2 separate regions of the Homo sapiens genome follow, and region 2 is linked to region 1. A link means that fine-mapping ties the variant in region 1 to the expression of a gene that starts in the linked region. Tissue or cell type: whole blood. Region 1 holds a variant in brackets; the other region holds the start of a gene. All regions are shown on one strand. Distances are from middle to middle.

Evidence for each region. PIP is the estimated chance that this variant, and not a neighbour inherited with it, causes the effect.
Region 2: TBC1D1 starts here. The variant in region 1 is fine-mapped to the expression of TBC1D1 in whole blood (TOPMed, PIP above 0.99).

The regions. Positions count from the first base shown.
Region 1 is chr4:37,856,413-37,859,174 of GRCh38, reverse strand. The region is part of intron 13 of PGM2 (phosphoglucomutase 2); the gene reads right to left. Among named protein-coding and RNA genes, the nearest start is that of PGM2, 31 kb to the right of the region's middle. The variant A/G (reference allele first, on the strand shown) is at 1,248.
Region 2 is chr4:37,889,847-37,892,477 of GRCh38, reverse strand. TBC1D1 (TBC1 domain family member 1) reads right to left here and starts at 1,394. Exons shown (of 22, transcript NM_001396959.1): 1 at 1,130-1,394. RefSeq lists an enhancer at 1-86 and silencers at 866-1,365, 1,686-1,875.

The sequences.
Region 1 (2,762 bases):
CAGAAAAATCTCAAATACATAACATATATGGTGAGAGAGCAAATATTGCAAAATGTTAGCAATTGCTCAGTCTGGATTGGGGTCAACAAACTGTGGTTCATGTAGTTTTACTGGAACACAGCCCTGCCCATTCCTTTATACATATGGCTGCTTTCTTACTACATTAGCAGAGCTGAGTAGTGGTGACAGAAATCACATGTCTGCAAATCCTAAAATATTTACTATCTGGCTCTTTACATACAAAGTTTGGTCTAAGTGAAGGGTGTGTGGGTATTCACTGCATTCTTATTCCAACATTTCTGTAGGTTTGAAACTGTTCAAAATAAAAAAGTTGGACAAAACTAAGGACATCTCCCCTGACAAAAATATATTTTTAAAGCAGCACATACTTGAAAAGGATTTTCCATTTTAGTTGATTAGAAGGCCATGAAATTCTATGAATAATTGAAATTTATGACATAAAGCATATTAATAATATTTAAGCTTTTCAGGAAAGAAGGAAATCTTAGTGAAGACATTATTGCTAGCCTGGTGCAGTGGCTCACGCCTGTAATCCCAACACTTTGGGAGGCTGAGGCTGGCAGATCACTTGAGGCCAGGAGTTCGAGCCCAGCCTGACCGACATGATGAAACCTTGTCTCTACTAAAAAAAAAAAAAAAACACCAAAAAATTAGCTGGGTGTGGTGGTGCATATCTGTAATCTCAGCTACTCAGGAGGCTGAGGCACAAGAATCGCTTGAACCCAGGAGGCAGAGGTTGCAGTGAGCTAAGATTCCACCATTGCACTCCAGCCTGGGCAACAGAGAGAGATGTCTTAAAAAAAAAACAAAAAACAAAACAAAAAAAACTTTATTGCTGTTGTACGTTAGGTATGCTGGTGCCTTGCTTAAGCCGTGACCACATATCCATCTACTGACATAGCGCTTAATGTCCCATTTAATAAATGGAAGCAATGTTTCAATGCATATAATAAAAGGACAAATTTTCAAGGTTTTTTTCACTAATTTATAAGCTAATATTTGAATTTAAGTCCACTCAATAAGCCATGTGAAAAATGTTAATACCATAAAGCCTTAAACATTTAAATAGTGTTATCATTACAAAGGAAAGCTTTCCGAAGTATAAGATATATTTTCATCAGATAATGAAAAGGAAAGGACAAGATACAGAAAAAACAGATCCTTAAGTTGGACTGTTTAGTTGGACTGTCCATTTCTTTTTAAAAGAATGAAACATAGAAATAAGA[A/G]AACACTAAATAAGCAAGAATTATAAAGAAATGTTTACAAAAAACTATATGCAATATAGCAGCAAAGAGCTTACTATCTAATGCACACGAAAACAAGATTCTTGCATAATATTACAATAAAATATTGGTAATCCAGAATTCTTAGAAAATGAGCTTTTATATGTTCACTTAATAGTTGAGTTTTTGCACTTTAAGCACAAAAAGGTTTTGAATGGGAATCCATAGTGAAAATATATTACATAGTCCCATGACTTCTTAAATATCTCTTTATTGAACATCTTGACATTTGAGAGCCATAAGCATGACTGTGTTGGAGTGGAGCTGTATTCTGGGCTCACTTGGGTGTAGAATGCTATTTCCCTCATGATAAACTCATGGAGTGGTGAGCTTTCTAAGTCCTTGTGTCCACGTTTTATAGTTTTGTTTTGTTTTAATATTTCCTTTCTTGCTATCAGCAGTCACTTCTCCTTGCCTAAGAAAAGTTTGTTATACTTCCCCATTCCTCTAATTTGCTACATTTAATCTGCTACTAGCTTGGCAATTTAAGATGCTCAGGAATTTTCATCTGCTTTTATTTGCACAAGTTTGATTCACGAGGCTGGAAAAACTCTTCTATGAGCAAAGCTTTGGTTTGTCTATGTTGTCACAATTACCTAGATGGGTGCTGTTTACTACAGCGGCCATTAGACACATGTGGCTACTAAGAACTTGAAATGTGGCAAGCGCCACTGAGAAACTAAATTTTTAATTTTATGAAGTTCAGTTAATTGAGTTCAAGTTTTAAAACTGATACTTGATTCAGTTATTAGAAAACAAGTATGTTTGGAATAATCTGGGTATTAAAATCTACTTTGTCTAATCTAAATTTTATTAACTCTACAGATCAAGTATTTCTGATAAAAATGGAGCATTCAAATTGAGATATGCCGTAAGTGTAAAATTACTGAATCAATTTTGAGGACTTTTTTCCAGAGGAAAAAAAAAGAATGTAAAACATCTCATTAATAATATTTATACTGATTATATGTTGTAATAATTTTTGGATATACTAGGTTAAGTAAAATACATTATTGAAATTAATTTCACCTGTTTCTTTTTACGCTTTTAAAAGGTGACAAGTAGAAAATCAAAATTGCATCTGTGGATTGCATTTTAGTTCTGTCAGACAGCACTGACTTAATTCACCTTTCACAAAAACTTTTCCTGATTTTCAACTGTATTCTGAATAGGGAAATGCTGGTTAACGGCATGTTGGATAGGCATGCAGTATCACACTTACACACACTAAGGACAGCACTGAGCTTGTTAAGGTGCAAAATGTTAAGTTGTTACAGAGTGACCAACTCAAACACTTTTTTGAGGTCACAGAAACTTGAACCTGAAGCTACCAGCCCATCAGTTCTTTGGCAGCAAGGACTCTCTCTGATGAGGCTCTCTGTGCCCCCTCCAGAACCCAGCACAGACCTGTCTACAATGGGTACTCAAAGATATTTCTTGAATGCATGTGGAATGGAT
Region 2 (2,631 bases), 33 kb before region 1:
AGTGTTAGAATGCTCTACTTGTGTTCACTTCAGAAAATGTCCCCTAAACTCTTTTTTTTTAAGAGATGGGATCTCACTTTGTCACCCAGGCTCCAGTGAGGTGGCACAGTCATAGCTCACTATGGCCTCGAACTCCTGGGCTCAAGTGATCCTCCTGCCTCAGCCTCCCAAGTAGCTGGGACTACAGGTGGGTGCCACCACCCCTAGCTCATTGAAAAAGTTTAGAAGTTTGAACTTGTACAGATAGCTGAGTTTCTTGGGTGTGACCTATTTAAACCAGGTCATTTTTAAATGCTCTTTCAAAGTCTGATTTTATTAATAAATGAAATCATCCCATCATAAGGGAAACAATGAGAAATCTATGAAGGGAAAACATATCCATTAATATGAGGCACCCTGAAAATTAAACTGTTTGGTGGAAGGAACAACCATCACTTTCAATTTCTTTTTAAAGCAACTTCCAGAGAATAAGCTATGTTAAGTAAAATCAAAACAGGAAAAGCCACATCTAGGTGGATTTCAAACGAAATGATACCTCTCTGAAAAAAAAGCAAAAACAAAACCTTAATGCCTGGTGAAGTTTGAGGGGGGTCTCATAATCACAGAGCCATCAGGAAGCGGCTAGAAACAATGAAGCAGGGTTTCAAAATGACTGGTACAGGATGTACCCATAGAAAGAAATGTTGCGCGCACTGGTGGAGCTGCCAAAGTTACTACTGCAAAGTACCCTGAACTTTTAAAGCGTGGCTTGGGGTCACTCTGACCACACTCTTTCCAATCTGGTCGCCTTGCAAACACGCTAGGATAATTGGCGGGAGGGGGGAGGGGAGAGATGCGCGGACCAGTGAGCTGGCGGGGGTTGGGGGAGAAGCCGGCGGAGCTCTCGGGTCGCTAGCAACATTAAGGTTTCGCTTTCGTCCAAGGGCGGCGGGGGTGGGGGGGTAAGGGGGGCAACGAGATGGCAATGAACTTCCTCCCCCGAGAGACCCTGGCCTCGCGTCCGTGGGCGGCCAGATGCCTTCCCCTCCGCGGCCAGGCGGGGCAGGGGCGTGCTGCGGGAGGGGGCGGCCGCGACGCCCCGAGAGGAGCCAGCAGGGTGGCCAGGACGAAGCCCCAGGAAGCGCCTTACCTGTGCCGCGGCGCGCTCAGAGCCCGGGGCCGGGCCGGGACGCGCAGGTGCTTGGGGGCATCCTGGGGACGGCCTGGGCGGGCGGGGAGTCCATCGCACCCGGCTGGCTGCGCTCTTCCCGCCGCGGGGGGACGGGGAGGGGGCTCCCCTCGGCTCGGCGCCCGCCTCTTCTCCACCCAGCTGAGGACACAGCAGGTCCCGCGGCGGCGGCAGCAACAGGCACCGGCGGACGGTGGCGGCACCAGGAGCAGCAGCCGAAGAGGAGGAGGAGGAGGAGGAGGAAGAAGAGGAGGAGAAGGAGGAGGTGTCTGCGCGCGGCTCTGGTTTCCTCCTCCCAGCCTGGGCGAGCGCGCTGGAGGCGAGGGGAAGACAGGAGCCGGGATCTCCCCACTCGGTCCCCGGGGAGCTGGGAGGGGGACTCGGTGTCCTCCTCCTCCCCACTGCGCCGTGTGACTGTGCCTGGGCAGCACGGCCCGGACGGGCGAGTCACACGCGAGCAACAGCTGCTGCACTGCGGGTCCGCCGCGGCCTCCCTCCCCTCCTTGCCACCCCCCGCCCCCAAGCCCGCGGGCCATCCTCAGCCAGTGTCTGTGGGGGGAATAGGGGGGAAGTACTCGGGCCGCCGCCCCATCCAGACCCCTGCGCAGGATCTGGGCACAGCGTTTCCCTGGGGAGCCGGGGGCGCGGGGCCCCGCGCGTGATGCAGGCCCTCGTGGCGGGATGTACAGTCGCACACCCTGTCCTTGGCGGCCTATTTATAGCAGGTGGCACTGCCCGCCGCTTGCTCGGCCTGAGTGGCTCTCAGCAGGTGGCACTGCCTGCCCGCTCTCCGCGCTCCCGAAGGCGCCTCGCCTCATCTGCACCCTCCTCTTCTCCCTCCGAAACAGACGTGGTGGAAACTGCACACAACATGGGGGGCGGGGGCCGGGGGCGACCAAGCCACCTTGCTCTCCCCCGCCTTACCCCTTCTCCCCGTCCTTGGAGGATGGCAAGAGGTGAACTGAGGCACGGATGCCCTATGGGGCGCTGGCATGCGAGGCAGGAAAATCAGGGACTCTGGGAAACAACGAAGGCGAAGTGCCCTCCCGGGATTAAACACCAGGAAACTCCATTTCTAACCAATTGCGGGAGTGACGCAGAGCCTGGATTAGGCGCTTTTTCCTGCCCCGCGAGCCCGGCACACGCGCAGGAACACACACCACACGCACACGCACACCCCAGTGTGCATGCCCCGATCAGGTCTGGGGACATTCCCAGCGGTGATGTAGAGTGCAAGGAAAGACGCGGAGATGTGAAAAGCGGGACAGAGCTCGCTCCCTAAGACTAGGGGATGGCAGTGTGCAAAAAACAGGCGAAGCTCCCAGATCCCTATCCCACCAGGCACAGAGGCGCAACGTCACTCGCAGGGTGGGGAGAGGGATCTGAGAAAAGTAAGAAGCATCACATCCTCTCCAGAGAAGAGTCCGCAGGGAGGGGAGAGCCGGGTGCTCGGAGGAGGCAGT